Homo sapiens: one gene and its partners. The protein of the gene in region 3 interacts with the protein of the main gene of each other region in a pairwise test. Each region holds a gene or a part of one and is shown on either strand. Other genes may lie near its edges.

Region 1 (7,315 bases), on a different chromosome or scaffold from region 3:
TTGGGAAACAGGAAGACTTCATCTCTACAAAAAATAAATTAAAAAAAAAAAAAAAAAAAAGCCAGGCATGGTGGCACATATCTGTTGTCCCAGCTACTCAGGAGGCTGAGGTGAGAGGACTGCTTGAGCCCAAGAATTTAAGGCTGCAGTGAGCCATGACTGGCCATTGCAGCCTGGATGACAGCAAGACCCTATCTCAAAAAAAAAAACACAGAAAACAAAAAAGAAAAAAGTTATCAGCTGGACAATCTTCCCTGTGATTACTAGTAGCATCTAAGAACCTGAAATCATGAGTGTCACTGAAACCAAGCTGTAAGGAAATTCCAACACATTAAAATGAAATCAATTCATATAGGGGCTATAGGACACAGCACCCGGAGGTGACATTAGAAACTGCAAACAGGAAAAACACATAATTCAGGGGTACTAGCATATGACACAAACATATATGATTAAAAGCATTCACTGTTCTCCCAACGTCCACACACTCAGAAAAACACTGCTACCTGCTCATGCTAGCCTTCTCACTATCTACAGCAAACACCAAGAAAACTCAGTATTCATCACAATTAACATCAACTCCATGCGTTCTCAGAGAGGAGGAAAGACCAGGCAGGAATCTACCTGTGCCCAAAATTAGGTTACCATCAGGATCCAACGGAGAAAGAACTGGGGAATAAACTGAGTCTAGGTTTCTTTGAGTAAACATCCCTCGCAAGTTTCTGCTCTTAAGCACACAAATTTAGCAACTTTAATTTCTAGGTTGGGGTCTAGTTCCTGTCAACACTAGGAAATGGGAGACAACTACTTTTATCACGGTCAGATCACCTATAGATTGTGATCATTCAATCATACATGCAAAGAATATTACAAAATACTAACAACATTAGTATGTATTAAGGGGCTTACTAGATGCCAAGTTGCAGCAACCCTCACAACCCTCTGAGGTAAATGCCATTATTAATCAGGAGTTACGTTAACTTATCGAACTGTGGAAACTGGGATTTCAAGCATGCTCGTCTAATCACTATACTAATAATGCTTCAACCTGCCAATTTATTTTTTTATTCTGTAAGCCATAAGGAGCCAATGAAAAAAATTAAGGACAGCAGTAATGATCATCTTTACATGCTAGAACACACTACTCAGCCACGTGCAAGGTGGACTGACGCTGGGGTGAGCAAGGGTCTTGAAAGAGATAGTCAAAGTCTGGGTCAAAAATGCTGAGGAAATTCTGAGCATAAGAATGCATAGGAGAGGATAAAAACCTAAAATCTGTATCTAATAAACTTAGCTAGACTTTCTGATTGTTTTAAGTATGGGAAGGGATGAAGGAAGCTACCTCGCAGGTTACTAGCTGGGCCACTGGTTAGTAATTACTGTCCATCAATTCATGAGACAGGAGGAGGAACTGGTGCTTTAGTTTTGTGTAGCAAGCAGGAAGAGGACAAGTCTACTTAACGCGAATCAAAATGAGAGCAAGCAATTATACAGAATTTCTCTCCCTCGACAAAATAAGCTTCTCATATTACAGAGATCTTAACTTTGAAATGCTTTTCAAAATAGGGAGTCACTTGGGCTGGGAGGGGACTTCAACTAAGTCCTCATTTTACAGAGGAGGCACTGAGGGGCAAGGCTGTTTCAATACCCTGTCCAGAGTGCGCACTGTTCAGGCAAAACCAGGACTAAAAACCAGCTCTGCCGGATCCGTTCTACCTACTGCTCCTTCTGCTTCAGCTGCCCTCCCAACCTACTAATAGGGATTTACATCCCCAAATACGTTCATGTAAACACTTAGCATTCTTCAACTAAACACAAAATCAGATATGTAAGCTAAAAATCTAAAGCCAAAAACATGTATTTAATTTCCATAAAATTTCTACTTTTCTTTGGAAAAACTTTCCCATTGTGTCAGTTTCTATTCACTGTAACATTCTCTATATTTCAGGTCCTAAGACCAAAAAAAAAAAATCCTTTTTAAACTTAGGCCTTGAAGAAACGACAAACCCTCTAGGCTTAATATTGCACCATATGAAACCACTGACACAGACAAGGCCTGTTCTGCCGAAACCAGGCCAGTTAAGTCAGGGCTCAATTGCTTCTGTATCATTGTCAGAAGCCATCTCGACCTCAAGCAAAAGTAAAACTGGAGAAAGAGGCCAGCCTAACTTGCTCCTCGGCTGGTCCCCAGCAACGCCCCTGGAAACTCTGCTCCCCATCGCTAGGACCGCCCCTCCGACGCCGGGAGAACACGGAAGGAGCAGCAAGGCGCTGCCCGGCATCTGCCGCCAACTTCCCCGTCGACGGTCTGATTCAAATGCTCCCTACCTGTTTTCCATGTAGACTTGGAGAGAAACTGCGCCAGGAAAACTGTTATCAACTGTTACAGGGACGGAGAACTCCGAAATAACCAAATTACTACTTATATTCACTGTCCCATGTCTAGCGCCTTTTGAAACAATAACCAAATCCTGTAAAGTTTTGTCTGCGATGAGCAGTCACTAGGAAAAACCTGTATTCGTGATGAATTCGCCTCCCCCCCCAGAAAAGGACCGACTTTCCAAGAGCCGAAGCCCCTGCCCGGAGCGGCGGGCTCGCGGGCCCTGGGTGCGACCCCACCCAGCCTCCCCGGGATTCAGGCAGCCGGGCCCCGCGCCCGCGCTCACCCAGGTGCTCCCCGCGGCCTGCGCGCCCGCGCGCTTCTCCGGCATGGCTCCCGCCTCGGGCTCCGACGCCGCCTTCTCCTCCAGCTCCGGCGGCGGCTCCACGCTCATGCCGCGGCCATGCCCGCGCCAGCCCGGGGCGCTCCGGGACGACGGCGACGCCGCGGAGGCGGCGGCGGTGCCCGCGCCCTCATGGGCTCTGCGGCCCGCGGCGGCCTGCGGGTCAGGCGGCGGCGCCAGCGGCGGCGCCGAGGGCTGAGGAGGCGGCGGAGGCTGAAGCTGCGGATCAGGCTAGCAGAAGACCGCAGCTCCAGGAACCGACCACTTATCAAACCGCACCGACCCCGACTCTCGCAGTTACCGGCGGCGTCAGGGGCGGGCTGCACGGTTAAGAGACTGTGCCCCGCCCCGCCTCCCCACAGGCCGGCGCCGGGCAGGAGGCCCCGCCCCGCACCTCAGCTCCCGCCTCGAGAACGAGTCCCGCGCCTGAGTAGCCTCCAGCGACGCCACGCCCACTTCAGAGACCCCTCCTTTACCTCGCGACTGGCCCCTTGGCATCAGGACTTCGCGGCGCGCGGGAAGTACGTCATTTCGAGAGCCCGTACGACTGATTTCTTTTTCCGGAGAATCTGGACTGAGGCTAGCAAGCGGGGAGGGGCAAACTCGTGGGGGTTTGGTAGTGATTGCAGTTCAGTTTTGGTCTTGGTTTGCGCCAACCCGCCAACCTCTCAAGTTTTTCTATGGTTCTCTAAGAAGAAAATAATATACTAGCAATGTTTCCCAAACGTACTTGAACACAACACTTTTTATTCTTGACACATGATTAATATCTTGTAGAATGTGTAGGACGCAGTTGGAAAAGCCTGGCTTATGTTTATTTATTTTGAAAGATATGCACCTAATACTGAAATATAAAAAAGCCTACAGGCCTGGAGCGGTGGCCCACACCTATAATCCCAGCACTTTGGGAGGCCGAGGCGGCTGGTTCACCTGAGGTCAGGAGTTAGAGACCAGCCTGGCCAACGCGGTGAAACCCTGTCTCTACTAAAAAACAAAAACAAAAACAAAAAACACCAAAAAAATTAGCCGGGCTTGGTGGCGCACGCCTGTAATCCAAGCTACTCGGGAGGCTGAGGCAGGAGAATAGCTTGAACCTGGGAGCCGGAGGTTGCAGTGAGCCGAGATAGCGTCACTGCACTCCATCCTGGGCGACAGAGTGAGGCTCTGTCTCACAAAAAAAAAAAAAAAATCTTTTTACAAACATCAATAGAAAAAAGAATAAAATTATTTCTATTAACAGGATTAGTAATTTTAATTGAATTAAAGTCATTTCATTTAAGAATTTTTTCAGGTTGGGCGTGGTGGCTCACGCCTGTAATCCCAGGACTTTGGCAGGCAGAGGTGGGCGGATCGCCTGAGGTCAAGAGTTCCAGACCAGCCTGGCCAACATGGTGAAACCCCGTCTCTACTAAAAATACAGAAGTTAGCCGGGCATGGTGGCGGATGCCTGTAATCCCAGCTACTTGGGAGGCTGAGGGAAGAGAATCGCTTGAACCCAGGAGGCGGAGGTTGCAGTGAGCCGAGATGGTGCACTGCACTCCACCCTGGGTGACAAGAGTGAGACTTCGTCTCCAAAAAAAAAAAAAAAAAAAGCCTCTTTTTCGCTTCCCACCCACTACCCCCAAACACACACACACACACTTTGCAGAAGTCTTTACTTTTATTTATTTATTTATTTATTTGAGACAGAGTCTTGCTCTGTCACCCAGGCTACAGTCACCCAGCCTAGATCAGTGGCGTGATCTAGGTTCACTGCAACCTCTACCTCCCGCATTCAAGCGACTCTCCTGCCTGAGCCTGCCGAGTAGCTGGGATTACAGGTGCGCGTCACCATGCCCGGCTAATTTTTGTATTTTTAGTAGAGACGGGGTTTCACCATGTTGGCTGGGCTGGTCTTGAACTACTGACTTCAAGTGATCCGCCCCCCTCGGCTCACCGAGCCGGCCTGGTCTTTTTTCTTTTTTTTTTTTTTTTTTTGAGACGAAATTTCGCTTTTGTCGCCCAGCCTAGATCAGTGGCTCGATCTCGGCTCACTGCAACCTGTGCCTCCTGGGTTCAAGCAATTCTCCTGCCTCAGACTCTCGAGTAGCTGGGATTACAGGTGCATGCCACGACCTGGCTATCTTCTGTATGTTTAGTAGAGACAAGTTCACCATGTTGGCCAGGCTGTTCTCGAATTCCTGATCTCAGGTGATCCACCCGCCTCGACCTCCCATAGTGCTGGGATTACAGGCGTGAGCGACTACACCCAGCCTGATTTGTCTACTTTTCTGAATGATTGTTTTAACAAATAGTTTTCAAAACACAGAGGGAATATATGTATTATGTTATGCTGTTTGAGTATTATGTTTATGCCACTTATGAGCTTGGGTATCAGTTTCTGATTCCTGTATCCATGAAACAGAAAAGTTTGTAAACTGTTTTTTTGTTTTCTTTTGAGACAGTCTTGCTCTGTTGCCCAGTCTGGAGTACAGTGGCGCGATCTCAGCTCACTGCAACCTCTGCCTCTCCGGTTCAAACGATTGTGGTGCCTCAGCCTCCCGAGTAGCTGGGACTACAGGCACCTGCCACCACACCCAGCCAATTTTTGTATTTTTAGTAGAGACAGGGTTTCACCATGTTGGCTGGGCTGGTCTCCAACTCCTGACCTCAAGTGATCCGCCTGCCTCAACATCCCAAAGTGCTGGGATTACAGGCATGAGCCACCATGCCCAGCCTGGACTGTTTTCTTAAATAGACTTACAATAAAGTTATCCTAGAGGGAATAATGGAGTTTTTTGAAGTTTATTTTCTTTATCACAAAAGCCACTAAAGTTTGCTATAATACTAGCAGTGTATATTTTTAACTACAGAATAGGCTGTGATTCTACTGAGGCAAACTTATAAATTATACCAGATAAGTATACCATTATATCTTTGATGGTTGATATTGCCATATCAGCTATATCAGAGTAACATATGCTAATACAGTTCTTTTTCCTAAGAGGAGAAATTCAAACAATTTGCTGATCTTTTTTTTTTTTTTTTTTTTGATACAGAGTCTTGCTCTGTCGCCTAGGCTGGAGTTCAGTGACGCGATCACAGCTCACTGCAGCCTTGACCTCCTGGGCTCAAGTGATCCTCCCACCTCAGCCTCCTGGGTAGCTGGGACCACAGGTGCATAAAACCATGCCTGGCTACCTTTTTAATTTTTGGTAGAGACAGTGTCTCACTGTGTTGCCCAGCCTGTTCTCCAACTCCTGGGCTCAAGCAATCTTCCTACCTCAGCCTCCCAAAGTACTGGAATTATAGGCGTGAGCCACCGTGCCTAGCCTTGCTGATTTCTATTTAATATTTTTGTTGAGATTTTTCGCTTTAAATAAATTAATCATCTGGTCTTAAAGCTGGATTTTAAGATTGGGTTAAACTTAATGCTAAAATAGGGTATCTAATAACTGAGAGTCTTTAATCCCCAAGACTATCCTCTGGTTTAATGATTCACTAGAAGAACCCCAAAAAGCTATTTTACTCATAGTTACAGTTTATTATAGTGAAAGGATACAGATGAAAATAGCAAAGGTAAGAGGCAGCAGAGTCCACGAGAGACCACGCACAAGCTTCCAGTTGTCCTTTCTGAGTAGAGTCTATGGGCAGCACCACTAATTCTCCCAGCAATGATATGGATCTGGGTGCTGTGCTCTCTCTCTCTCTACTTGTGTGTGTGTGTGTGTGTGTGTGTGTGTGTGTGTGTGTGTGTGTTAACAATACATGTAGTTTCAGAATTTCTAACTCTGTGGAAGCAAGTTTTCCAACTACAGTGTTTATGTACGGTTCTTTTTGTTTTTATCCTGAAAGTAGCCAGTCAAAACAGTTTTCCAAATCAATTCAATTTCTTTCTTATTTACTCAAATCAATTCTTTTTTGATTGAGTAATCAATCAAACTTTTATTTATTTACTCAATTTATTTTTTCCCCACTCACTTTGGTGAGGTTATGCCATACCTTTGTAATATAATTAAGTTCATTTGTCGTGCTGGCCATTCTATCCTAAGATCCCACATTAATTTGCATAAAGTTAACTCTCTGCAGTGTATTGTTCTGTGGATTTTGACAAATGGATGGGCCAGGTGCAGTGGCTCAGGCCTGTAATCCCAGCACTTTGGGAGGTCGAGGTGGGAGGATCACTTGAGACCAGGACTTCAAGAGAAATAGGTAGTTATGCATCTACTGCCACAAGACCCTAAATATTCCCTTGTGTGGTCAATTTGTAATCAACAGAAAGGGGGAAGTGGTATTGAATTCATCACTTTTTATATATAATTTGAATCTTTTTTAAAGTATGATGCAATTGGGTTGTTCAATAATGTCTGTGAGTCTCCTTGTACTGGCAGTTGTCTGCTGGGAAGGAAATCCAGAGCTGGCACCTGCATGGCCCAGATCCAAGCCAAGGTGTATAAAGCAATACCTTCACATGGTATCTTTGTTGCTGTTTCTCCACCCGTCTACTGTTCCCTGTGTGAAAGGATAACAAACTGTCTTACGATAATTGTCTAAATGTTTAAAACACACTTCACTTAATTTTGTTTGTTCCGAGCACTACTTTGTAATTGCAA
Region 2 (4,979 bases), on a different chromosome or scaffold from region 3:
CTCCATGCAGCTCACCCAGCCCAGGGTTCCAAGTGAGGCCATGGGCAGTGCAGGCGGGAAGCAGGAGGTAGCATGGAGCAGCCGCAGCCCCACCTCCCCTCTAGGGAAGGCAGACAGCATGGGAGCACGCCTGGGCCTCCTGGGAGCTGTGGGCCAGAGGGAGAGCAGGTCCTCCAGCGCAAGGGGAGTGGGAAATGGCTCTCACAGGTGCCTGCAGGGCTGAGCAACCTGGGTCCACTGATGGGGATACAGGGAAGGGCTGCTGTCCCTCTCCCCAGAGGGAGGAGCAGACAGGAGAGAAACAGGGAGGAGGCGCGAATTCCAGTAGCCAAGAACCTGGTCCTTTAAAATCCAGGGAGTCATAGGCAGGAAACTCCCCCCACACCCCCACCGCCAGGCGGGCCAAGCCTGAAGGCAGAGAAGGGACAAGTAAGGAGGCCCAGCAGGAACGAAGCCCTGGCCTCCTGTCACTCAGAGCTGTGTCACAGCAGGAGAGGAGGATGGAAATAAACGAACACCACACCTTTTTAATATGAGGTTTCATATTTATTTTGGTCATAAACATATGAGTATTTCATATATAACCAGGTGTTATGTGCTATTTGGCCCGGGTATAAAGCAAAACCTAAACAAATCAACCAACGCCAAAAAACCCCAACAATTTCATGTTGTCAGGAAGCTTATGTTAAAGGAATAAGCTTAAACACTGATAAGGCTGGTAGTCTAGATGCATCTTCAAGGAAGGCCTCTGAGGAAGGGACAAAGGAGCTGGGACCGGACTGGCTCTCTCTGAGCTTTGAGACCAAGTCTCCTGCACAGAAGGCCCAGCAAAGGCAAAGACTAGGAGGCAGCAGCACCCTGTGTCATCCAGAAGTGCAGGGGACAAGGTGTGGGACGCCAGATGGAAGTGGGAGAGGATGGAAGTGCGAAGACCGGAAAGGCCATCCCCTCCTAAAACTCCATGGACACAACAATCTGAATGTGCGAACTTCAGGCAGTTCTAACTTTGTCCCAGCCAAACCAGTCCCGGAACAAAACACACAATGCCTTGAGATGGAAAAGACTGAAACCCCTAGAATGACTATATCCGTAATTTATCCTACCACGACTGGGCTACTGTGGAGAAGAGTTTGCTGGAAAGAAGCTAAAACGATTACTGAGGTTTTTAAATAAAATAATGGAACGTGACACAAGGACAAATGTGTCAGCCATTTTAGATCCTGTTGTCACAGTGTTTAAGAATTGATATCTCTGAGATGAGTCAGATGCTTACAGAGGGGCCAAGCTCCTCAAACAGGGAATCTGTACCCTAAAACGCAGCTCAGGAATCTCTGCCCTAAAAGGCATCCCAGGGACTCAGTTCACAGACCACCAGAAGCGAGAGGGGCCCATCCATGCCTGAGTCGGCAACCATTTCACACCATTCCCAAGCACCGTCCACTCTTCCCTCTTGATGCCATGGCAGATGCCGGGGCAGATAAACACCTGCTCTGCCCTGAGCCCAAATGAGGCTCAAGATTCACTAACGTTCAACTGTAATGGCGCTTGAAAGAGAAGCTCTTCGCAGTCTCGGATCTAACTTAATTCTCACTGTCCTCATCTGCTGTGGACAAGTCGGAAGATGCAGTCCCATGACTGTCCCAGCACGACAAACCAGACACATGGCTTCCCAAAGATACCAGGCTCTTCAAAATCCTGGGCATATGTAAACATCTACTTATAAATAAATAAATAAATATTTATTTATAAATAAATATGGCTATATACCTCTAAAATTAACAAGTAAGACAAGCTGCCCCTTGAGAAGCTGCCAGCCATCAAACCCTGGTCCAGTCTCAGGGCGCAGGAGGGAGAACTGGAATGCAGTAAGTGCCTCCCACAGAGGGAGGATTTCTCCCTCCGTCACTAGTTATATTTTTAGTCATTTTTGACTGCTGATTTGTATCCAGGCAACCCATGTAAACAGCCTAATAAGTGCATTTCCTAAAGTTTTTCCATGTTTACATCATTATACAAAAATCGGAAAAGAGATGTACAGCCTACAGTAGTAAGCAATATAAATGTTTCTCTAATTAAGGTGGGGGTAAGCCCCAATAATCCTATCTTAAAGCTCAAAACTCTAAGTCGAACCCTCGTAAGTCCATATGCTCATGACTTAGCATAGGGCTACGTCTTGATAATCTCATCATTAAGTCAAAAATATCCGAAACTGAAAATACAGGTAATAACAAGATAATCCCGTTCTAAAGTTAAAAAACTATAAGGCAAAGCATTGTGGCTGTGCGGCATCTGTAGTTAGATGTCATTAAATGCACACACCAGTAGAGATGGAGCTTGCAATATAAGAAGCAGAAAAAAAGACTTGTCTCATGATGAAGAACTGCAAAGAATGACATCCTAAAACCACTTTTTTTCTTTTTAAATTGAGATGGAGTTTCACTGTGTTGATGAGGCTGGTCTCAAACTCCCGAGCTCAAGCAATCCACCTGCCTCAGCCTATCAAAGTGCTGGGATTACAGGCATGAGCCACCGCATGTGGCCTAAAACGACCCTTAATACACAATCGTATAACTATGCAGCCAAGAATCTGATATAAATTTCTCCCGTTTGCTTATCACACGCAGTATTTCATAAAAATTACTCCAAGTGCGTTAACAAAGTTCTAGGACCATTGGTAAGCTGCCCCATATTGGATAGTAGAGTTTGTTGGGGCATGGGTCAAGTACTGGACTGTTTCTTCCAGGCTGCTTCCCTTTGTAGGAGAAAAGGTAAATGAGGGAAGCTCTGGTTTCCTGAAGAGATTCTTTCACAGGCAGGACGTAGCAGAGCCTGCCTCATCTTCTTCATAAAAGAGCTTTTCGGAGCCCACCAGTTGGTCCTGAATTGTTTCCTTTGCATGTCCTTCTTCCAGTGTTGCCGAGGCATCCAGCAAGGTGCTGACTGAGAAGAGAGAAGAGATTTAGGGTCTCAATGCTCCAAGGACGATCAGCACAGGATCGACATGGGGCCCCCTGCTTCCAGCAGTGAAACCTCCAGAAGAGCCCTCTCAGCTATAGGGACAGCAGTTAGGACACCGTCCCTATTCCCTGTCCTCCTGCTGCGTCTCAAGGCACAAAACACTTACTGTCAGCGGAGTCAGCGTCATTCACTGGAACCAGCAGCCTCCTCCTCTGACACCCTTCAGCTTCTGCCTGTTCCTGTAACACACAGTGGGGAATGCTCTGGTCAGAGTCAGGAGTCCTGCAGTCTAGTACTGACCCTGACCACTAGCCAGCAAGAGACCTGCAGCGCTTTCCCTCTTGGGTCTCCATGGAGATGGAGACAAACCTCTGGTCCTCCATAGCTCTTGGGCTCTGTGTGCTGGTGGCTCATTGAGACATAAGTGACATGCAGTAAATGCTCACTTTGTAAGTGTTCTGACCAACTTTGACTATAGGCCTGTGTAATTATCCCCTGATCAAGACATAGAAACTGCCACACCCCAGAAAGTCCCCTTCTGCCCCATCTAATCAACTCCCACCCACCCTCACAAGAAATGATCACTTCCTTCCAGAATTCTTACCAGCAGAGTCTCGGCAGACTATATATGAGAGCACCCAGGAAAACCTAACAAAATGATTTATCCCAAGACTGTAAATGATCTTTGATCATCAGTACTCTACCATATCAATAGCGTAATTAAATAAAATGGCAGTCTCTATGGAGGCTGGAAAGACATTTGGTAAAATTAAACAGCAATTCTGATTTTTTTCAAACCCTTTTAGAATAGTAAGCTGTGTTCTTGATGATGAGAATTTCTATATGAAACCAAAAGTGAATGCCATTGCTAAGAGTGACACTTTGGAGGCCTTCCCCAGAAATCAAATCAGGACCCAAACACCTGCCTTCCCTAAGCACAGCTGAATATTGTTCTGAAAGGTCTGGCCTAGGCAACAAGATGGAAAATTAAAATGAGGCAAGACTTTTGGAAGAGGGCAGACACAATAATCATTATTTTCAACGTCATTTAAAACCCCTAAGATGAAACTACAATATTGAAATAGAAATGTATGTCTGGAGGAATGTTAAAAACATAGCAAATGCAATAAATTAGCAAACAGAATTACAAGGTTATCCAACTCATAATGGATACAAAATACTAAACAGCCATAAGAAACAGGAATAATTTATTTGAAGAGGAACACAAATCACAACTCAGTTACAATAAAATACTTGACACCAAATGTTATCTCCTTTGATAAGGAAATACTGAATATTAATAAAATATTCAGTGTTTCTAGATTAATTTTTAATTTTAAAGCGAATTGATAAAACGGCAACTGAGGTTTTTCGGGAGGGAAGGATGGAGGAAATCTTTTAATTCTAAATTTTATCTGGGTAAAATAATACATTTTGAAAAAGTATGGAAGAGGTGTTTGCTCTTTTGGATGTTAAAAAACATTAGAAAGTTCCCATTGGAACATGCCTCAAAATGGTAAGAGCCATCTATGACAAACCCACAGCCAACATCATACTGAATGGGCCAAAGCTGGAAGCATTCCCCTTGAGAACTGGAACAAGGCAAGGATGCTCACGCTCACCACTCCCATTCAACATAGTACTGGAAGTCCTAGTCAGAGCACTCAGGCAAGAGAAAGAAAGAAAAGGCATCCAGATATGAAATGAAGAAGTGAAAACTCTTCATGGACGATATGATTCTATACCTTGGAAACCCTAAATACTCCACCAAAAGGCCCCTGGAACTAATAAACGACTTCAGCAAAATTTCAGGATACAAAATCAATGTATAAAAATCAGTAGCACCGGGCACCGTGGCTCACACCTGTAATCCCAGCACTTTGGGAGGCCGAGGCAGGCGGATCACGATGTCAAGAGTTCAAGACCAGCACGACCAACATGGTGAAACCCCGTCTCTACTAAAGAATACAAAAATTAACGGGGCGTAGCTGGGTACGGTGGCTCACGCCTGTAATCTCAGC
Region 3 (3,272 bases):
ACTGCACTCCAGCCTGGGTGACAGAGTGAGACCTTGTGTTAAAAAAAAAAAAAAAAGATAAAATAGCTAAGATTCACCGAGGGCCTCCTGCATGCCTTGCTAAGAGTCTGACATGTGTTCACTCACTAATCTGACTGCCCTGGGGCTCCCGGGCCTGCCCGCGCCCTCCTGTGCTCCAGTTGTCCCTTTTGTGGGATACAGGGTTTATCTGTTTAACAGCACTGCTGTGTGACAGGCCCTATTTTACAGAGGAGAAAACTGAGGCACAGAGAGGTAAGGTCCCTTGGCTGAGGTTATGTGGTTGGTTAGTGCTGGAGCTGGGATTGAACCGGGGCGGTCTTCAAAAACAAACAAGAAACACATAAAAGAACCAAATAGGCCGGGCACGGTGGCTCACACCTGTAATCCCAGCACTTTGGGAGGCCAAGGTGGGGGGATCACCTGAGGTCAGGAGTTCGAGACTGACCTGGCCAACATGGCGAAACCCAGTCTCTACTAAAAATACCAAAATTAGCAGGGCGTGGTGGCGGGCACCTGTAATCCCAGCTACTCAGGAGGCTGAGGCAGGAGAATTGCTAGAACCGGGAGGCAGAGGTTGCAGTGGGCCAAGATCACCCCACTGCCCTCCAGCCCTCTAGGTGACAGAGGGAGACTCCATCTCAAAAATAAATAAATAAACAAAATAAAAGAACCAAATAACCAGGCGTGGTAGCTGATGCCTGTGATCCCAGCACTTTGGGAGGCTGAGGCAGGTGGGTCACTTGAACCCAGGAGTTCAAGACCAGCCTGGGCAGCATAGGGAGACCCTATCTCTACAAAAATTCCAAAATTTAGCCTGGCCTGGTAGGAGCTGAGGTGGGAAGATCATCTGAGCCCAGGAGGTCAAGGTTGCGGTGAGCCGAGATTGCACCACTGCACTCCAGCCTGGGTAACAGAGCGAGACCCTGTCTCAAGAAAAACAAAAACAAACAAAAAGCTCCCAAATAACATGGATGGTGACAGGCGCCATGAAGGGCTGACATGGGAGTGAGACATAGGCAGTGGCTGGCAGGGGGCAGGTGGGGATGGGGGTCGGGGGGAGGAGGTGCCTGCTGGGCCTAGTGTGTCATGTCCCCTCCACACACGCCACCAAACTCCCACTGCTCCGAGCCGCACTACATCCCTGCTCCCCAGCCTAGGGGCTGTGCTGGGGCCTGACCCTTTGTGAGCTCTCCTCAGTCCCAGTCAAGTGGACCTCCTCCCTCCCTCTCCACAGCCCTTGCCCTTGTCCAGGCCACCATCACCATCACCAACACCATCCTTGCCAGCCTGGAGTCCCCTCTCTTCATTCTGTGGGGCTAATGGGGGTGGCTGTGTGGGAAGCCTCTGGGGTCTACCGTTGGGGAGCTCTGCATGGCTGAGGTTGGGGGTTCTCTGGGAACCTGTGGCCAAGGGTCTCTGGTCACAGTGCCGAGGTGGGCCTGGCTTTTCCACAGTGGAGTCCATTGATGATTACGTGAACGTTCCGGAGAGCGGGGAGAGCGCAGAAGCGTCTCTGGGTGAGTGACCGGTGCTTGTCGGTGCCTGCCCCTGCACCCCGCTGCCCCACCATGCTCTCAGTGTGACCAGATCCCACCCTGGGGCTACCCACACCCTCTGCCCCCTCTGTCTGGGCGTCCCCTTGCTCTCTCGCCCTCCTGACCCCTTTGCGTGGCTGCCCCTCCTTCTGATCTGTCCCCACAGATGGCAGCCGGGAGTATGTGAATGTGTCCCAGGAACTGCATCCTGGAGCGGCTAAGACTGAGCCTGGTGTGTTCTGCGGGAGGGGCAGGAGCTGGGGTAGCTGCTTTGGGCTTGGGGGGATAGCTTGCAAGCTGGAGACCAACCTCCCCTCCCTTACAGCCGCCCTGAGTTCCCAGGAGGCAGAGGAAGTGGAGGAAGAGGGGGCTCCAGATTACGAGAATCTGCAGGAGCTGAACTGAGGGCCTGGTGAGAGGCCTGCCCTGTCCCCACCCTGCCCTGGGCCCACAGGCTCTACTCCTTCCCTCCAGGACCCCCTTGCCCAACCCTACCTCTGGCTTGTCCCTCTGTCTCTGGGTACCTGCTGAACCCCGTCAGCCTCCTGATCCGTATCCCTCCCTGCCCTGGTGTGTTTCAGTGGAGGCCGAGTCTGTCCTGGAACCAGGCTTGCCTGGGACGGCTGAGCTGGGCAGCTGGAAGTGGCTCTGGGGTCCTCACATGGCGTCCTGCCCTTGCTCCAGCCTGACAACAGCCTGAGAAATCCCCCCGTAACTTATTATCACTTTGGGGTTCGGCCTGTGTCCCCCGAACGCTCTGCACCTTCTGACGCAGCCTGAGAATGACCTGCCCTGGCCCCAGCCCTACTCTGTGTAATAGAATAAAGGCCTGCGTGTGTCTGTGTTGAGCGTGCGTCTGTGTGTGCCTGTGTGCGAGTCTGAGTCAGAGATTTGGAGATGTCTCTGTGTGTTTGTGTGTATCTGTGGGTCTCCATCCTCCATGGGGGCTCAGCCAGGTGCTGTGACACCCCCCTTCTGAATGAAGCCTTCTGACCTGGGCTGGCACTGCTGGGGGTGAGGACACATTGCCCCATGAGACAGTCCCAGAACACGGCAGCTGCTGGCTGTGACAATGGTTTCACCATCCTTAGACCAAGGGATGGGACCTGATGACCTGGGAGGACTCTCTTAGTTCTTACCTTTTGTGGTTCTCAATAAAACAGAACTTAAAAAATTGTCTAAGTAACTGAAAAAGTTAATATGCAGCACAGCACTTTTGAGACTTTGATGGGTAGGTGACTCACCGGCAGACTTTGCTGTGGGGTGGGTTCTGACTCAGTTCGCCTAGGACGTGGCCTGAGACTTTGCATTTCTGAGCCTCTCCTGTGTGATTCTGATGCTGCTGTTCTGTGAACCTCATCCTGAGGAGCAAGGGCGTGGTGAGCATCTATTGCCTTTACTTGTCCGGGATCCATTTCCCCTTATTTTGGGAATTTCACCTTGGCTTTCCTCTGCAATTCACTCCTTTCCCAATCTCATTCCATGTAGTTTTAGAGATTGTGTGTTTGTTTTTTCTTTTTCCTTTTTTTTTTTTTTCTTTTTTTGAGATGGGGTCTCCCTCTGTCGCCAGGCTGGAGTGCAGTGGCGTGATCTTGGCTCACTGCAACCTCCGCCTCCTGGGTTCAAACAATTCTCCTGCCTCAGCCTCCTGAGTAGCTGGGATTACAGGCCCCCACTACCACACCTGGCTAATTTTTGTATTTTTAGTAGAGATGG
Region 4 (7,657 bases), on a different chromosome or scaffold from region 3:
CGGCGAGGGGAATGGGCCCCGCAAAAGGTCCACACCGGGTGAGAGGGGCGCGCAAGGCCCGTCACTTAAGGGGAGATGCACAAACCAACTTTGGGGGCGTGCAAGACCCAGCCCTGGAGAGGAGGCTCCCAGACCCCACCCTGGCGGCACAGCGCCTTTCCTTGGAGGAATAGGCGCACAGGTGGACCCCAGCCTCGCCCCACCTCTGGGGAGCCTGCGCTCACCGCGGCACAGCTGGAAAGCCGAGCCCAGCAGCGCCACCAGCGAGGCGAGCACCAGGCACTTGTTGAGCGACAGGTCTCCCCAGGGCAGCTCCTCGCTCAGGGCCGGGGGCGGCGGCGGCGGCTGCAGGGGCGGCGCGGTCTGCGCCTTCTTGCGCGCGGGGACGCTCCGAGGGCCTGCGGGGGCAAGTGCGCGCTGCGCTGTGGTCACTGGCTCTGTGCCGCCCCCTTCCCCGGGCGCAGGGGACAAGAGACAGGCCTGTGCCCTGAACCCGGCTCTCTCTGCCTGCCTGTGCGGCCCCGGGCGCAGGTGAACCCAGCCCCGGGTGCCCCGCAGCTGCACGGGGATGCCTAGAGTTTCTGGAAGGTAACTTCCCGGAGCTGAGTGGCATAGCTGGTATTATTACGCATTAGTAGAGGCTCCCTGCCCGTTGACTCGCTGCCTGCCACACTTCGACGCCACTCAACCAGGACACCACCCTCCAAGATCCAAGGACCCAGCTCCGGCACCTGAGCCTCACACCAGTCCGTTCCCACCCCACACCTCACCCATGCCTCCTGCAAACCCACTCGCTCCGGCTTTCAGCCTCTCCTTCCCCGTTCCTGGGGTCCCCCTGGCGGCAGGCTCTTTTTCCATCTTCTTGGGCCTGGTGTCCACACTGGGGCCTTCAGCCACCTGAGAGTCCTGTGGTTATCACGAGACATTCCACATGTTTCCTTCCAGTGCCAAACCCTTCCCGTGGGCTTTAGACACCTGCCTCCCTTGGTCGGCTTGTCCCCAACTCCCCAGGCGTCCTGGGTTAAAGGCTGAGGGTCCCAGCTACTCACGTGGGGCACGCTGCCGGAGTCGGCCAGCCTGGGTGTCGCTGTGGGAACACAGGCAGAGTCAAGGTTGTGGGGACCCCCAGGCCAATCCCACCCTCTCCCCTGGCCCTGCTGGGTGACGTGCGGGTGACTAACCCCATCTTATAGATAAGAAAGTAGGTGGAGGCCAGCACAGTGGTTCACACCTGGAATCCAGCATTTTGGGGAGACTGAGGTGGGAGGATCACCTGAGCCCAGGAGTTTGAGACCAGCCTGGGCAACATAGTGAGACCCCATCTCTAAAAAAAAAAAAAAAAAAAAATTAGCGAGGCATGGTGGCCTGCACCTGTGGCCCCAGCTACTTGGGAGGCTGAGGCAGGAGGATCACTTGAGCCTGGGAGGTCAAGGCTGCAGTGACTTATGATCATGTCACTGTACTCCAGCATGGAAGACAGAATGAGGCTCTGTCTCAAAAAATAATAATAAAAATATATAAAAATATAAAGAAAGCAGACAGGCTTGGAGACAGCTTTGCCCAAAGACACCCAGCATTTCAGTGGCAACGTGGGATTCGAACCTAGATCTGTGTGGCCCAGCACCTGTCTTCCTTGGGGGCTCCTTACAGACCCCTGAGGCAGAAATGAGGGCCAGGGGTTGAACATGGGGAGCACACTATAAGCCAGTCCAGTGTGGGAGGCTAAGAAGCTCTAGTCTCTGAAGATGGGCCTCCTGGCTCAAGGGGACCATCAGGGAAGGGCTTCCTCCCGCCAGCGCCACAAGGGTACCTGAAGCCCTGTCCTCCTGGGTCTCGGCCAGCGCAGAGTGGTCCTCCAGGGCCTGGCAGCTGCCCAGGCCGCCATCCAGCTCCTCCCAGGCTCTGGTTGTCATGGACATGGCTGGAGCAGCAGCAGGTCCCAGGCCAGGCTGGGAGGGGTGGGGAACAAGGTCTTGCATTTACTGAGTCTCTGCCACAGGCCTGGGCCTGACCTGGAGGTTCTGCGGACACCAACTAACAGGCCCCGTCCTCCCACCCCTCCTCACTCGGCAAATTCATACTCATGCCAGGCATGGCCCGGCGCCCACTCCAGGCATCTCTCTGACCCCGCATGCCTGCCCTGGGACCCCTCCCTACCGCCCAGCCTCACTGGGGTCCAGTATCCATCAGTACAGTAGCCCAGGCTGCTCTGGCCCAGAGAGGGCGGGAGCCCCTGCAGGACAACACAGCAATGAGTCCCAGACGCACCCCAAACCGAAACTCTTGGCCCCAGAGTCAGCTCATGTTCTCTGAGACCAGGGACTATTTTTATCTGGTGCCTGAGGCCAGCGGGACAGGCTAACAGGTGCCCCAGCCCCTCCCAGGCCTCTGCTCTCATGGGGTCTCCCTCTGGGCCACCCTGACTTGCCATTCTGGGCACCCACATCCTGCTGCGTGACCCTGTGAGTCTACAGGCTCAGGCCCCAGCAGCAGAACCATCCTGGCTCTGGTCGTGACAGGCCGGGGCAGGGGAGGAGGGTCCCGGTTGTGGTTGGGGGTCTTCTGATCCTGACACAGAGTACCCTGCCTTGTCCCACTAACTCTGTTCCCATAGGACAGATGAGGAAACCGAGGCTAGAGACAGTGCCATTGGCTGGAGGTCGCAAGGAGCTTCAAGTCAGACCCAAAGCTGTACTCTTCAGGGTCCCCATGGCCTCTGGCTGCTGGGATTAGGGTGTCCCTGTATCTAGGCTGAAAAACCACCCAGCCCTGGGGCTCCAAGACCTGGAAGGGGCCTATTGCGTGGCAGTGGGGGAGGGGCCCAAGAAGCATGGGAGGCTGGTGTGTGGCCCCTGGGTGTGCATGGGGGCAGCTCCAGGAATTGGGGACCCTTACAGTCCTCTGCAACACCCCTTCACACCCCGGGAGCCCACACCTCTGCCCGGGATTCCCCCAGCCTCACTTCCTTACCCCCGAGCCTCGCTTACCCGCCAGCCGCTTTGCTGAGCCTTGTGGACAGGACGGAGGATGGGGAGGGTGGCCCCGTGATGGACGGCAACAGGTGGCCAGAGACCGCGGGTGGGCCAATCAGCATGCCCGCTGGAGTGAGGTCACAGCCGGGGAGTCCCCCACCCTTCCCTGCCATTGCAGCAGGGCAGGGCATTGCTCCTACTCAGCACTCGCCACTGCCACCCAGGGAGACGTAGCGCCTGCAGCTGGGACTACAGGCGCGCACCATCACACCCGGTAAGTTTTCAATTTTTTTTGAGACGGAGTCTCGCTCTGTCTCCCAGGCTGGAGTGCGGTGGCGCGATCTCCACTCACTGCAAGCTCCGCCTCCCGGGTTCACGCCATTCCCGTGCCTCAGCCTCCCGAGTAGCTGGGACTACAGGCGCCCGCCACCGCGCCCGGCTAATTTTTTTTGTATTTTTAGTAGAGATGGGGTTTCACCGTGTTAGCCAGGATGGTCTCGGTCTCCTGACCTCGGAATCCGCCCACCTTGGCCTCCCAAATTGCTGGAATTACAGGCGTGAGCCACTGCACCCGGACTAATTTTTGTATTTTTTTTTCAGTAGAGACAGGGTTTCCCTATGTTGGCCAGGCTGCTCTCGAACTCCTGACCGCAAGTAATCCATGTGATCCGCTCGCCTTGGCCACCCAAAGTGCTGGGATCCCAGGCGGGAGCCCCTGCAATGCATTCATTCCTGCTGTTTAAAGCCACTGTATTTGGGGTCATTTGTTTCTGTGGCTCTGGCAGGCTCATACACTCGGAACTGCCTGCTCCCACACCGTCATGCAGAGAAACCTGACGCCTCTGCTCTGGAGAGGACCCGGGGTCTCTCAGCCCCCAAAGGCACATTCTAAGGCCTGCAGGCAGATGTTTGAGCCCTACCTGCAAAGCATGGTGACTCTGGGAGTCCTGAGGGAAGAGGGGAAGTGGATTTTGGTGGTGAGGCCTGTGTGTTAAAAATCCTGAGTGAATGGCCGGGCGCGGTGGCTCACGCCTGTAATCCCAGCACTGTGGGAGGCTGAGGCGGGCGGATCGCCTGAGGTCGGGAGTTTGACACCAGCCTGGCCAACATGGTGAAATCTTGTCTCTATTAAAAATACAAAAATTAGTGAGGCGTGATAGTGGATGCCTGTAATCCCAGCTACTGGGGAGGCTGAGGCAGGAGAATTGCTTGAACCCGGGAGGTGGAGGTTGCAGTGAGCCGAGATCACATCATTGCACTCCAGCCTGGGCGACAGAGTGAGACTCTGTCTCAAATAATAATAATAATTCTGAGTGAATAGGGCCTCCCCAGGAACTACCAAGAGACCCAGAAGGCCAGCCCGCCTTCAGCAAAGCAAGGGCTGGGGTTCCCTGGTCCCCACTCCCTCCGCTTTAGAAACGGCTCTCGGCCGGGCGCGGTGGCTCACGCCTGTAATCCCAGCACTTTGGGAGGCCAAGGCAGGTGGATCACAAGGTCAGGAGATTGAGACCCTCCTGGCTAACACGGTGAAACCCCGTCTCTACTAAAAATACAAAAAATTAGCTGAGTGTCGTGGCGGGCGCCTGTAGTCCCAGCTACTCGGGAGGCTGAGGCAGGAGAATGGCGTGAACCCGGGAGGCAGAGTTTGCAGTGAGCCGAGATGGCACCACTGCACTCCAGCCTGGGCGACAGAGCGAGACTCTGTCTCAAAAAGAAAAAAAAAAAGAAATGGCTCTCATTTTTTTCTGTATGACACAAGGCAGAGACAAACAGGAAACAAAGAGAAGCTGAAAGCAAAAACTGTAAAGCACCTGTCATCTTCCCGCCCCCAAACAGACACTGTTTAATAGTTTGACATGTTCTTTCCGCTGTTTGTAACTTGTGATTTTATTATTAGTTCCATATTTATTTTTATAAAGCTGGCATAATTAGCGAAGGGCTGAACATCTTGTTTGTAACCTAGATTTATTTTTTCTTCCTAAAAGTTTTTTTGTTGTTGTTGAGATGGAGTCTCTCTCTGTCACCCAGGCTGGAGTGCAATGGCGCGATCTCGGCTCACTGCAACCTCTGCCTCCTGGGTTCAAGCGATTCTCCTGCCTCAGCCTCCCGAGGACCTAGGATTACAGGCATGCACCACTGCGCCTGGCTAATTTTCATATTTTTAGCAGAGATGGGGTTTCACCATGTTAATCAGGCTGGTCTCAAACTCCTGACCTCAGGCGATCTGCCCACTCTGGCCTCCTGAAGTGTTGGGATTACAGGCGTGAGCCACAGTGCTTGGCCCCTCCTAAAAGTATATTACAGCTTGGCAGTTCCTCAAAAAGCTAAAATAGAATGACCATAAGATGCAGAAACTCTACTCCTAGGTATCTACGAAAAGGAATCCGAAGCTTGGACTCAGATATTTGCACACCCAAGTTCAGGGCAGCACGATTCTCCGCAGCCACATGGTGTAGGCAGCTCTAGCGTTCCATCCTCAGATACACGGATCAACACAGCGTGGCCCTTCCACACGGTGAAGTACGACACAGCCGTGAACAGGAACGAGGCTCTGACTGCGGCCATGGCGTGAATGCACTTTAAGGATGTCACGCTCGGTGAGAGGTGCCAGACACAGAAGGCCATGCTGTATGTGATCCCATTTCTATGAAATGTCCAGGACAGGGCCGGGTACAGTGGCTCATGCCTGTAATCCCAGCACTTTGGGAGGCCAAGGTGGGTGGATCACGAGGTCAGGAGATCGAGACCATCCTGGCTAACACGGTGAAACCCCGTCTCTACTAAAAATACAAAAAATCAGCCGGGCGTGGTGGCGGGCGCCTGTAGTCCCAGCTACTTGGGAGGCTGAGGCAGGAGAATGGCGTGAACCCGGGAGGCGGAGCTTGCAGTGAGCTGAGATCACGCCACTGCACTCCAGCCCGGGCGACAGAGCGAGACTCCGTCTCAAAAAAAAAAAAAAAAAAAAAAAGAAATGTCCAGGACAGGCCAATTCACAGAGACAGGAAGGGGATTTGTGGGTGCCGGGGCTGGGAAGGGGATGGGGAGTGATGGCTGATGGGGATGGAGCTTCATTTAGGGTGACAAGAATGTTCTGGAATAAGACAGGGGTGGTGGTTGCTGAGTCATTTCACTTAGGATGATGATCTCCAGCTCCATCCATGTTGCTGCAAAATATGATTTCATTTGTTTGTTTTTTGAGACAGGCTCTCATCTCCGTCACCCAGGCTGGCATGCGTTGGCGCAATCAGGGCTCACTACAGCCTCAGCCTCTTCAGCTCAGGTGGTCATCCCACCTCAGCCTCCTGAGTAGCTGGGACCACAGGTGCCTGACACCACACGCAGCTAATTTTTTATTTTCTATTTATGAGACAGAGTCTCACTCTGTGGCCCAGGCTCCAGTGCAGTGGGGCCATCTCTGCTCATTGCAACCTCTGCCTCCCAGGCTCAAGCGATTCTCCTGCCTCAGTCTCCTGAGGAGCTGGGATTACAGGCATATGCCACCATGCCCAGCTAATTTTTTTTTTTTTTTGAGATGGAGTTTCGCTCTTGTCACCCAGACTGGAGTGCAGTGGCACAATCTCGGCTCTCTGCAACCTCTGCCTCCCGGGTTCAAGTGATTCTCCTGCCCCAGCCTCCCAAGTAGCTGCGATTACAGGTGCCTGCCACCACATCCAGCTAATTTTTGTATTTTTAGTAGTGACAGCGTTTTGCCATGTCGACCAGGCTGGTCTCAAACTCCTGACCTCAGGTGATCCACCTGCCTCGGCCTCCCAAAGTGCTGAGATTACAGGCGTGAGCCACTGCGCCCAGCTGCTAATTTTTGCATTTTTAGTAGAGATGGTGTTTCACCATGTTGCCCAGGCTGGTCTCGAACTCCTGGGCTCAAGTGATCCACCGGCCCTGGCCTCCTGAAATGCTGGGATTACAGGTGTGAGCCACCACGCCCTGTCTCTATGCTTAACTTTTTGAAGAGCCACCAGTCTCTCTTCCAAAGCGACTGAACTGTTTTACCTGCCCAGCAGCCATACAGGAGCGTTCCAACTTCTCCACGTCCAACTCGTCATTTTCCAGTTTCTTTGTTTGTGTTTTTATTGCCAGCCTAGTGGGTGTGAACGGCATGATCTCATTGTGGTTTCGATTTGCATTTCTCTGGTCAAAATAAATAGCTTTTTTTTTTTTTAAGAGACCAGGTCTCCCTATGTTAGCGAGGGTAGTCTGAAACCCTTGGCCTCAAGCAATCCTCCTGCCTTGGCCTCCCAAAGTGCTGGGATCACAGGCGTGAGCCACCGCGCCCAGCCTCAACAGCATTTTCACCTTCTTATTCTCATAGTGTCTCCCTTTGCATTCCTTTCCTGGAAGGCTCAGCTTTCCCAGAAGCAAAGCCTGGACACGGGGCCTCTGTGGGACTTTCTTTTTTTATCTTTTTTTTTTTTGAGACGGAGTCCAGCCCTGTTGCCCAGGCTGGAGTGCAATGGCGCAATCTCGGCTCACTACAACCTCTGCCTCCTGGGTACAAGCAATTCTCCTGCCTCAGCCTCCCAAGTAGCTGGGATTACAGGTGCGCACCACCATGCCCAGCTAATTTTTTGTATCTTTAGTAGAGATGGGGTTTCACCATGTTGGCCAGGGTGATCTTGAACTCCTGACCTAGTGATCCACCTGCCCCGGCCTCCCAAAGTGCTGGG

The links.
Region 1: the proteins of LAT (region 3) and SLC71A2 interact in binary tests that used the Homo sapiens proteins (3 or more experiments, as listed by UniProt).
Region 2: the proteins of LAT (region 3) and TNFRSF10D interact in binary tests that used the Homo sapiens proteins (3 or more experiments, as listed by UniProt).
Region 4: the proteins of LAT (region 3) and JSRP1 interact in binary tests that used the Homo sapiens proteins (3 or more experiments, as listed by UniProt).

Annotation. Positions count from the first base shown.
Region 1 is NC_000009.12:94,370,279-94,377,593, reverse strand, and holds the start of SLC71A2 (hippocampus abundant transcript-like protein 1), read right to left. Parts: upstream 3,026-7,315; 5' UTR 2,775-3,025; coding exon 2,667-2,774; intron 1-2,666.
Region 2 is NC_000008.11:23,135,064-23,140,042, forward strand, and holds the end of TNFRSF10D (tumor necrosis factor receptor superfamily member 10D precursor), read right to left. Parts: intron 3,198-4,979; coding exon 3,125-3,197; intron 2,941-3,124; coding exon 2,807-2,940; 3' UTR 525-2,806; downstream 1-524. UniProt on the Homo sapiens protein: Receptor for the cytotoxic ligand TRAIL. Contains a truncated death domain and hence is not capable of inducing apoptosis but protects against TRAIL-mediated apoptosis. Reports are contradictory with regards to its ability to induce the NF-kappa-B pathway.
Region 3 is NC_000016.10:28,988,052-28,991,323, forward strand, and holds the end of LAT (linker for activation of T-cells family member 1), read left to right. Parts: intron 1-1,475; coding exon 1,476-1,538; intron 1,539-1,722; coding exon 1,723-1,788; intron 1,789-1,881; coding exon 1,882-1,961; 3' UTR 1,962-1,968; intron 1,969-2,137; 3' UTR 2,138-2,733; downstream 2,734-3,272. UniProt on the Homo sapiens protein: Required for TCR (T-cell antigen receptor)- and pre-TCR-mediated signaling, both in mature T-cells and during their development.
Region 4 is NC_000019.10:2,253,396-2,261,052, forward strand, and holds the start of JSRP1 (junctional sarcoplasmic reticulum protein 1), read right to left. Parts: upstream 3,023-7,657; 5' UTR 2,988-3,022; intron 1,950-2,987; 5' UTR 1,920-1,949; coding exon 1,811-1,919; intron 1,088-1,810; coding exon 1,050-1,087; intron 907-1,049; coding exon 792-906; intron 399-791; coding exon 225-398; intron 1-224. UniProt on the Homo sapiens protein: Involved in skeletal muscle excitation/contraction coupling (EC), probably acting as a regulator of the voltage-sensitive calcium channel CACNA1S.